Linked DNA regions of Homo sapiens: region 1 is linked to region 2. The links come from fine-mapping of genetic effects on gene expression. A gene starts in region 2. The other region holds a variant in brackets. All regions are shown on one strand. Distances are from middle to middle.

Region 1 (5,367 bases), 27 kb after region 2:
AGCGCCTAGAATGGCTAAGACCTCCAGACCATCTACCACGCCCTCTGCCCTAGGGAGTGTCCACATTTCCCTACCTAAAACGTCCCTTGAGTCCTAAAGAATCTGTCTTGAGGATATGGCAGGAATAAAGAGAGAGAAAGACAGAGAGAGAGAGAGAAGGGGGCAGGGGTCCCGGGACTACTGAATCTGAGAGAGGAAGGGGGCTGGGGAACCAGAGTACGGGGTCTGAAGAAGGAGGGGCTGGAGCCTGGACTCCCGGGTCTGAAGGAGGAGTGGCTAGGACCCTAGACTTCCGGGTCTGAGGGAGGAGGGGGCTGGGGATCTGGACTCCTAGGTCTTAGGGAGGAGGAACTGGGGATCTGAACTCCCGGGTCTGAGGGAGGAAGAGCTGGGGATCTGGACTCCCGGGTCTGAGGGAGGAGGGGCTGGGGCCCTAGACTTCCGGGTCTGAGGGAGGAGGGGGCTGGGGATCTAGACTCTTGGGTCTTAGGGAGGAGCTGGGGATCTGGACTCCTGGGTCTGAGGGAGGAAGAGCTGGGGATCTGGACTCCTGGGTCTGAGCGAGGAGGAGCTGGGGATCTGGACTCCTGGGTCTGAGGGAGGAGGGGCTACAGGGTGCTGGAGGCCTTAAGTAAGTGATCTTGGGGAACTAGATCCAGGTCCCCGCCTGAGCTCTTTCTTTTGGGATCCCGGATAACTCCGCGAGCCACGCCCCATTTCTGACCCGGCCAAGCCCCGCCTCTCTCGGCCTCGGCCCCTCCCCAACCTTCCCGGGCCCCCGAAGGATCTCGGAGGCGAAGTTGCTAGAAGATACGTAAGAGGGCCCCAGTGGAGATGGAACAACCAAAGGACGGGGCTGGGCCTGAAGGGTGAGACAAACAAAGACCTCCTGAGAGGGGGACAGAGACCCAGAGAGAGGAGGGGACAGAGAAAACGAGAGAGAAAGGGCGCGCTGAACAGACCTGCATAGAGAATCAGGAAAAACAAAAAAGGCTCAGGTATCATCACATAGGTACAGAATCTTAGAAGATCTTGGTGAGAGTTGAGCGAGATACTTAGAAACAGGCGGAGGCCGGGTGCAGTGGCTTATGCCTGTAATCCCAGCACTTTGGGAGGCCGAGGCGGGTGGATCACATGAGGTCGGGAGTTCGAGACCAGCCTGACCAACATGGAGAAATCTGTCTCTCCTAAAAATACAAAATTAGACGGGCGTGGTGGTGCGTGCCTGTAATCCCAGGTACTCGACAGGCTGAGGCAGGAGAATCGCTTGAACCCGAGAGGCAGAGGTTGCGTTGAGCCAAGTTAGCGCCATTGCACTCCAGTCTGGGCAACAAGAGTGAAACCCCATCTCAAAAAAAAAAAAGAGCTAGAAACAGATACTCATCGAACAGAAATTTCCAAGAATAAACCAAGAAATGTGAAGACTCCAGGGATCCCCAGAAGGCTGGAGAAATCGTAGCTGTCCACTGTTTTAGCACTTACCAGACCCAGCGCTGTCATACGCACCTTTGATACCATCCAAAGCCATCTGTGACTATAAACAAATTAAGGTTCGGAATAGGAAAATGATTTGTCCAAAGATACACCACCAAAAGCGAGGCCACCAGGAATTGGAACTGAGTTCTGTCTGGTGCCGAAGTTCATGGCAGAGCTGTCTGTTTCTTTAGAGAGACCCGGGTTAGAAACAAAAAGAGAGAAGCGGGGGAGGAAGTCACAGGTGGGCACTGAGGATGGAGAGATGGCTGCCTTCTGCAGAGGTGCAGAGACAGCCTGGCAGCGAGAAACAAGAAAGTACGGAGACGCTGAGCCCCACTGACCTGTCTTTTTGTTGTTCTAGGAACAACCTGTCCCTGCCGTCATCTGGGACCGAGCCATGGCCCCCTGCGCCTCTCCCAGCCCCTCCACCCTTGCTCCTGAACTCCACAGACCCCACCCACCTGGGGCTCCCGGAGAGCGTGGCCTCTGTCACCGTGCCCATACGCCTGGACACCCTCTCCTGCCTCCTGCACAGCGCCCTGCTGGGGGCCTACACCTTCCAACAGGCCTTGCCCTCTTGCCCCTGCTGCTCCCAGGCAGGCCACTCCCAGCCGGGGGCAGTTAGGAGGCCTCCCAGGGGACGCGGAGGCTGGGAAGTCAGGCACAGGCCAGGCTGGGGCCGAGGCCTGCATCGACGGGGCCTTGGGAGAGCTGAGCAGCCAGAGAGGGGCCGGGCGGGGGGCCCTGGGGCTGGCCCCAGGACCCCACCAATGACACTGCCATCACCACCAACACTGCCTGCCCAGGATGGGAAGAAAGAAGCTCGAGGTCCAGAGCCACCCCTGGAAACACCACTGGCTGCTGAGGACTGGGAGACAGAGTACTAGGACCTTGGAGGGTCAGGCACCTGAGATTGCAGTCACCCAGGAGGGTTTTCCTGGGGCCCAGAGTGATCTCAGCCCTGTCAGAAGAACCCCAAGAAACATCTTCCATCCTCCCCTCTCCCCAAAACCACAATCCCAGGAGTAGCTCCTGTGAGGCACTTGGTGAACCTGACCTAAGTCACCTGAATCCCAAGTGAGAAGAAAATCCTAAACCTCGTACCCAAACCTGTCTCCTTGATGGCCTCAACCCCATTCCCAATGCCATCCCCAACCACAACCACAATCCTTACCTCATTCTCAACCCCCAGGGCTCCTCCAACCCCATTCCCTATCCTCTCCCTAATCCCAAAGCCACTCCTACCTGCCTCTCTCTTCCCCACTCTCAATACCCTGTTCCCAAACCCATTCATTCCCATCCCTGTCACCAGTCCCAGCTCCACTTCTGCGCCTCAACCCTAACCCACCCTCTTTACCAACCCCTTTCTCCTCATTGCCTGTGTACCTCAGCCCATCTTTAATGTCCTCTGAATCTACAGCCCCAAAGAGCTCCATCCTCAACCTCAGCCACAGCCCTGTGTCCATCCCCACAAAGAACCGCATTGGCCCCACATA[C/T]CCAGACACCTGTGACTCCCCACCCCACTGCCTGCTCTTCAGGTAGAAAGCCCTGGTTGAACAATAAACGCATGACTCTCCCTGAATCTTGCGTGTGTGCGCGCGCCCGTGTGTGTGTGTGTGTGTGCGTGTGTGCGTGCTTACACAGCTCGGACAAAGCCAGGGTTGCTTTGAGCAAGGCTGGCGACAAGGTATTGGGTTCCGGGGAGGGTCACAGAGGTCAGTGAGTGGGTGGGGGGAGCCCCCTGGATGCCTGCTTCAGCGAATTCCATTTGAGGCCTCTGCCACCGCTGCATTTCTGCCTGCTGGAAGCTGCTGGGTAGTGGGACCATTGTGTAGGGAGGCTTAAGGGATTTGGGGAACCTAAGGGGGCAAAGAGGCCAGTGACCAGGCTCAGCTCAGTCTGCACAGAGGGGCCGTGGCAGAAGGAGGGCTCGGGCAGGCTCTGCCACTCAGGTAGGCACCAGGCGTGAGACCTGTAGCCCCCTCTTCCCCAAGTCCCAGGAGTCTAGGGTCCCAGCTCCTTCTTCTCCCAGGACCTGGTGTCCTACCCCCTAGCCCCTAGCCCCTTCCTTACCCACCACCCAGGAATCCAGGCTCCTGGGCCCCTTCTCACCTAGGACTCAGGAAGCTAGGCCTCCAGCCTATTCCTTGCTCAGAACCTGGAAGTCCAGGCCCCCGGCCTTTTCTTCCCAGAACCCAGCCCCGCTCTCCCTGTTGTCTTTCCAGGATCCCTACCATCCTCCTCCCTCAGACCCAGGAGTCCGGGCTCCAGTCCCCTCCTCGCCCAGGACCCAGGCGTCTAGGTCTCCATCTCCTTCTCCCAAGCACTTGGCATCCCACTCCTGAGCCCTCTCTCCCCCCAGTTCCTCCCTTCAAGTCCCGGGAATTCAGCTCCCAATCCCATCTCTCCCCTTCCCCACAGATCACCATGTACAGCTTCATGGGTGGTGGCCTGTTCTGTGCCTGGGTGGGGACCATCCTCCTGGTGGTGGCCATGGCAACAGACCACTGGATGCAGTACCGGCTGTCAGGGTCCTTCGCCCACCAGGGCCTGTGGCGGTACTGCCTGGGCAACAAGTGCTACCTGCAGACAGACAGCATCGGTGAGCCCCCCGGCCAGGGTCCAGGCCGCGCCTGGGGAAAGAGCAGGGCGGACCTCGGGGCCCAAGGACACCTGTATTCCAGATGGAGAACTCTGCGGCTCAAAGAGGGAAAGGGAGCAACCCAAGGTCACTCAGCATGGAGGGGGCAGAACTGGGACTACAGGGTTGTTTTCTAGCTGCAGTTTCACGGGGTGCTGGTTTGAAGGTTAAGTTGGGAGAGGTGGCATTTCCTGACGCTTCAGAGGTGTCATGCACAGCAATTGGGGCTAGTGTCACGAAACAGCATTTTCTAAATATGTACTATGGACCAAGAACTATGTTAGGTACTGGTGGATACTGAATTTGCTAAATACTGCATAAAGTAGCATAAAGTATTTTTGCCTACTTATAATGTGCCAGGCCATAGATAGAGAGATACATAGAGATATATAGTATATTGCTTGCTGCATAGCATCTATAATATATTAAGTTAATGTATACTATATTATGTGTAATATATGCAATTTATATTATTACATATAATTTATGATGTATTATATATAACTACATATAGACAATAATATACAGTATAGTGTATTATACATGCACCTCTATTATATAATAAATTACTAATACATAATATATTGTATATAATATGCTACATATTATATAAGTAATGCACATGTAATATATTATATATGATGTAGAATCCATTATATTACACATTCATTATCTAATAAATAGTATATGTCATGACATTATATAATAAATTAATAATGTATATATTATACAATATATTATATAATAAATTAATAATGTAGAGTATATTATATTGCACACTTATTATATAACATATTAATAAATTTGGCCAGGCGTGGTGGCTCACGTCTGTAATCCCAGCACTTCGGGAGGCTGAGGTGGGCGGATCACCTGAGGTCAGGAGTTCAAGATTAGCCTGGCAAAAAAGGTGAAACCCGGTCTCTACTAAAAATACAAAAATTAGCCAGGCATGGTGGTGAGCACCTGTAATCCCAGCTACTCAGGAGGCTGAGGCAGGAAAATCGCTTGAACCTGGGAGGCGGAGACTGCAGTGGGCCCAGATGGCACCACTGCACTCCAGCCTGGACAACAGACGAAGACTCTGTCTAAAAAATAAATAAAAATTAATTAATAATATATAATATATTGTGTATTACTACTAGTAACAGTAATAATAATAACTGGCATTGATTGAGTGCTTACTATGCCCTATGTGCTATTCTAAGCACTTTACATGGATAAACTCACTTCCATCCCCAACAACACTACGG
Region 2 (5,367 bases):
TGAGGTCAGGAGTTCAAAACCAGCCCTGCCAACATGGTGAAACCCCACCTCTACTAAAAATACAAAAATTAGCTTGGCGTGGTGGCGCGTGCCTGTAAGCCCAGACTCAGGAGGCTGAGGCAGGAGAATCACTTCAGCCTGGGAGGTGGAGGTTGCAGTAAGCAGAGATTGCACCACTGCACTGCAGCCTGGGTGACAGAGTGAGACTCTGTCTCAAAATATAATTAATTAATTAATTAATTTGAATTTCAGATAAATTTATTTTGCTTTCTGGTATAAGTATATCCCATGCAGCATTTCGGACATACTTATACCAAAAAACATAAAATAAAATACTTTATATTGTCTGTGAAAGCTTTAACCAGGCATCCTGCATTTTACCTGACAAGACCAGCCCCCTCCAGTAACGGTCCCTTCCCCTGTACCCACCACCTCCACCACCAGTGGCCCAGATAAGGGTAGCTCACTGTGGACTTCTCACTTCTGCTTTTCCGATGACCCAGGGCCCAGAGGGAGAGCCCCCACCCCACTACCCCACCCCCAGCCAGGCCCCCAGGATAGACACAAGCCTGCCCTCTCCTCCTACACAGGGAGCTCTGGAAGGACCAGCTCAACAAGCCCAAGGCCAGGCTGGGCCCCCAGGAGACCCAGAGGACAACTGGGCAAGGTGGGCCGGAGAGTGTGGGGGAAGGCAAAGGAGTTCTGTGAGCTCAGCGTCTGAAGCTCATTTCATGCATCAGGCCCCAGGGCTCAGCTTCCGCCTTCGGCTTCCCCTTCTGCCAAGAGCCCTGAGCCACTCACAGCACGACCAGAGAACAGGCCTGTCTCAGGCAGGCCCTGCGCCTCCTATGCGGAGATGCTACTGCCACTGCTGCTGTCCTCGCTGCTGGGCGGTGAGTGGGCCAAGGGCCGGAAAGGACCTGGGGCGGAGCTAGGGCTGGGGTTGCAGGTTGAGCCTCTGTCTCCCCACAGGGTCCCAGGCTATGGATGGGAGATTCTGGATACGAGTGCAGGAGTCAGTGATGGTGCCGGAGGGCCTGTGCATCTCTGTGCCCTGCTCTTTCTCCTACCCCCGACAGGACTGGACAGGGTCTACCCCAGCTTATGGCTACTGGTTCAAAGCAGTGACTGAGACAACCAAGGGTGCTCCTGTGGCCACAAACCACCAGAGTCGAGAGGTGGAAATGAGCACCCGGGGCCGATTCCAGCTCACTGGGGATCCCGCCAAGGGGAACTGCTCCTTGGTGATCAGAGACGCGCAGATGCAGGATGAGTCACAGTACTTCTTTCGGGTGGAGAGAGGAAGCTATGTGAGATATAATTTCATGAACGATGGGTTCTTTCTAAAAGTAACAGGTATGGAATGGGGTGGGAACCCCTGCCTCTCACACTGGGGAGGGACCCTGGGGACAGCCTATGGGCTGAGCAGAGAGGGCTCTCAGGGACCCCTGCAGCACAAGAATCTCCCACCACGGTCTCTGTCCCAGCCCTGACTCAGAAGCCTGATGTCTACATCCCCGAGACCCTGGAGCCCGGGCAGCCGGTGACGGTCATCTGTGTGTTTAACTGGGCCTTTGAGGAATGTCCACCCCCTTCTTTCTCCTGGACGGGGGCTGCCCTCTCCTCCCAAGGAACCAAACCAACGACCTCCCACTTCTCAGTGCTCAGCTTCACGCCCAGACCCCAGGACCACAACACCGACCTCACCTGCCATGTGGACTTCTCCAGAAAGGGTGTGAGCGCACAGAGGACCGTCCGACTCCGTGTGGCCTGTGAGTGTGGCCTGGGAGGGTGGGGTGTGCAGACAGCCCCGGTGGGTGGGGAGGTGGAGGAGCCCAGTGGGACAGTGAGCGGCTCCCAGCTCAGGAGCATCCAGGGAGAGGAAGCTGTGGGGTCCCAGGATGCCGCCGCAGCCCTGGGAGGGGGATGGGAATGGCGTCTGGTCCACACACGTGAGCCCTGGCGCTGGTTGTCACTTGTCTTCCCGGGATAGTCCCACTTTCTTTTCCCTGAGGGAGTTTTTTCCAGGTGTGAGGAATAAATTGTCCCTCCCTGAAGCCAGCTCACAATCTTGTTGCAGATGCCCCCAGAGACCTTGTTATCAGCATTTCACGTGACAACACGCCAGGTACTGAGGGCCGTCGGGCTGGGGCTGGGCCAGTTGTCTTTAGATGAAAAGGCTTCAGGGGATGAGGGGATGTGCTCCTCCCTGTACCCCTTCTCTCTTTCTCCCTCCCTTTCTCTCTTTTTTTTTTTTCCTCCCACTCCAGCCCTGGAGCCCCAGCCCCAGGGAAATGTCCCATACCTGGAAGCCCAAAAAGGCCAGTTCCTGCGGCTCCTCTGTGCTGCTGACAGCCAGCCCCCTGCCACACTGAGCTGGGTCCTGCAGAACAGAGTCCTCTCCTCGTCCCATCCCTGGGGCCCTAGACCCCTGGGGCTGGAGCTGCCCGGGGTGAAGGCTGGGGATTCAGGGCGCTACACCTGCCGAGCGGAGAACAGGCTTGGCTCCCAGCAGCGAGCCCTGGACCTCTCTGTGCAGTGTGAGTGTGCCCAGCAGGGGCCTGGAGTCCATTGGGAGGGCAGAGGGATACAGGGGCTGGGCTCAGGGTCCCAGAGCTGAGGGGGCCTGGAGCCCCAGGCCTCGGAGACCGACCTTCTTACCTGTGTAGACCCTCATGCAGTTTGTGTCTGGGACTCAGTGGGTGATTCTGCCCTGCCCTTCTATCCCACCCACTTCCCCCACCTCAGTGTCCAGGATGGTTCCCTTTACCCAGAGGGAAGCCCCTGGTCCGTCTAGAGCCGGTCCCCTGTCTCCATTTCAGATCCTCCAGAGAACCTGAGAGTGATGGTTTCCCAAGCAAACAGGACAGGTAGGAAAGGGGACAGAGGAGCCAAGGCCTCTCAGTGCCGAATTGGGGGCCCAGGAGTCTGGAGGGTCCCCACGCAGGAGGGTCCCTGAGCCCTGAGCTGCTCATCGATTCTGCCTCTTCCTTCCCTAGTCCTGGAAAACCTTGGGAACGGCACGTCTCTCCCAGTACTGGAGGGCCAAAGCCTGTGCCTGGTCTGTGTCACACACAGCAGCCCCCCAGCCAGGCTGAGCTGGACCCAGAGGGGACAGGTTCTGAGCCCCTCCCAGCCCTCAGACCCCGGGGTCCTGGAGCTGCCTCGGGTTCAAGTGGAGCACGAAGGAGAGTTCACCTGCCACGCTCGGCACCCACTGGGCTCCCAGCACGTCTCTCTCAGCCTCTCCGTGCACTGTGAGTGGGGGAAAGGGGACACCTGGGTCCCAGGAAGGGGACCCTGCTGAGTCCTGTCCTCCCTCCCCTCAGACTCCCCGAAGCTGCTGGGCCCCTCCTGCTCCTGGGAGGCTGAGGGTCTGCACTGCAGCTGCTCCTCCCAGGCCAGCCCGGCCCCCTCTCTGCGCTGGTGGCTTGGGGAGGAGCTGCTGGAGGGGAACAGCAGCCAGGACTCCTTCGAGGTCACCCCCAGCTCAGCCGGGCCCTGGGCCAACAGCTCCCTGAGCCTCCATGGAGGGCTCAGCTCCGGCCTCAGGCTCCGCTGTGAGGCCTGGAACGTCCATGGGGCCCAGAGTGGATCCATCCTGCAGCTGCCAGGTTAGGGGGCCGCCTGGATGCCAAGGTTCTTGGAGGAGAAGCTGACTGGGGCAAAGAGTAGGGTCCTGTGGTTGGAGCAGGAGCTTGGAGGGACACAGCAGACCCGTGGCATCTGTATGTAGACAGGAAAACACAATGGGAAGTCCTAACACCTGGGCCGGGGTGTGGCAGGGTTTCCTAAAAGTAAACAGAGGGGTTGCAGATACAATGTCCGCCATGGGAACCGGAAGCCTTAATGCCGAGTGATGAGCGGGCTTCGTGAGCCCTGCGTGGATGGGAAATGCTCACCTTGCCCTCTCCGTGTGCAGATAAGAAGGGACTCATCTCAACGGCATTCTCCAACGGAGCGTTTCTGGGAATCGGCATCACGGCTCTTCTTTTCCTCTGCCTGGCCCTGATCATGTAGGTTAAGAGGAGGCGTGGCGGGGTCTGGGGCCTGGACCCAGGAAGAGGGGAGGTGTTGCAGGCCGAAAGAGTGAAGGTCGTGATCAACGCAGTATACCTCTGGAGGTTACATGAGTAAACAGCAAACTGTTCTCATAAATGCAGAATGTTGTCCAACTGACAAACTGCGTCTGCTTCCCAGAGGGAATGCTGAGGGCAGTCACGCCCCAAGCGAAGTGTTTCTTGTAATTAGGCACAGCTGAAGCTTGTTAGTAATAATATGAACCTGTGATCAATTAAACAGCTGACCAATTGTTACCTCCTGCTCTCTGCTCTTTCTACCCAATAAATACAAAGGGCTGTAGAGGCTCAGACAGCTGCCCTGGCTCACTAGTAGCAGGGAACCCTCTTCTTCTTCCCCTGACCCCTTCCTTTAAAATAATTTCTTTTGTCTTAAGTTTTCATTTCTACGTTTGTCCTCCTTCTTTCAGTCTCATAATGACGGTCTCAAGTGGTAACAGTAGTAACTGTCATAGTGACGGTCTCAGGTAGTAAACGTGGCAGTCTGTCACAGGGAGGTGCAGCAGGGCACAAACAGGTGGGTTCATTTCCTCAGCATGAAGATTCTACCGAAGAGACGGACTCAGACAGAAACCCCGAGGCCCAGGTTCTCCCGGCACAGCACGATCCTGGATTACATCAATGTGGTCCCGACGGCTGGCCCCCTGGTGAGTGTCTGGGCCATGCTTCCACTTTTTCTCTTCTCTAAAGCTGACATCCCACTTTCTGACTTTTGCACCCCTTGTCTTAGCGACATCAAGGTGGGAAAAGCACCGATAGTTCTGAATTCAAATCCTGCCTGGCACTTACTAGCTATGAGACCTCAGCCACGTCACTCACCCCCTCTGAGCCTTCATTTCTTCCTCTGTCTCCTTTGAGAGTTGGTTTGAGGATTAGAATACATGCACTTTCTCAATCTGTAGCCATTGTTCCATTATTACTGCCACCATTGACATGACTACACTTAACTGCTTAACAATTATGTGTATCATCGGGAGGCTGGGCATCCTAGGGATTCAGCACAGGGGGTCTGAAATCAGCCTGCATGGGTTCAAATCCTGCTGTCATCACTGTGTCATGAAACAAGTGTCTTAACTTCTCTGTGCCTCAATTTCTTTAGCTGTAACATGGAGACAATACTAGCGGCCACCTCCTAGGATGATGCTGGGTGTTAAATATATTGTACTTGCATAATAAAATATTCAGAATATCACCTGGCCCCTGGGTAATACTCTGTAAATTCTGGAAATTATTAAGAGATAACATCTTATGCTGATGACTGCAAAATTGTATCTCGTGGCTCCTTCCC

Evidence for each region.
Region 1: its variant is fine-mapped to the expression of SIGLEC10-AS1 in whole blood (TOPMed, PIP 0.94).

What each region holds. Positions count from the first base shown.
Region 1 is chr19:51,385,980-51,391,346 of GRCh38, reverse strand. It overlaps LIM2 (lens intrinsic membrane protein 2), which reads left to right and starts at 3,373. Exons shown (of 5, transcript NM_001161748.2): 1 at 3,373-3,428; 2 at 3,898-4,078. The coding sequence starts at 3,904. C19orf84 (chromosome 19 open reading frame 84) reads left to right here and starts at 756. Exons shown (of 2, transcript NM_001193623.2): 1 at 756-869; 2 at 1,838-3,058. The coding sequence starts at 835. The coding sequence ends at 2,363. LIM2-AS1 (LIM2 and SIGLEC10 antisense RNA 1) reads right to left here and starts at 4,239. Exons shown (of 2, transcript XR_002958397.2): 1 at 4,150-4,239; 2 at 3,976-4,059. The variant C/T (reference allele first, on the strand shown) is at 2,973.
Region 2 is chr19:51,413,071-51,418,437 of GRCh38, reverse strand. SIGLEC10-AS1 (SIGLEC10 antisense RNA 1) reads right to left here and starts at 2,714. Exons shown (of 3, transcript NR_164125.1): 1 at 2,306-2,714; 2 at 1,708-2,009; 3 at 241-1,306. SIGLEC10 (sialic acid binding Ig like lectin 10) reads left to right here and starts at 796. Exons shown (of 11, transcript NM_033130.5): 1 at 796-893; 2 at 973-1,356; 3 at 1,488-1,772; 4 at 2,081-2,128; 5 at 2,271-2,540; 6 at 2,823-2,870; 7 at 3,000-3,257; 8 at 3,330-3,614; 9 at 3,923-4,016; 10 at 4,615-4,726. The coding sequence starts at 857. RefSeq lists enhancers at 567-636, 697-866.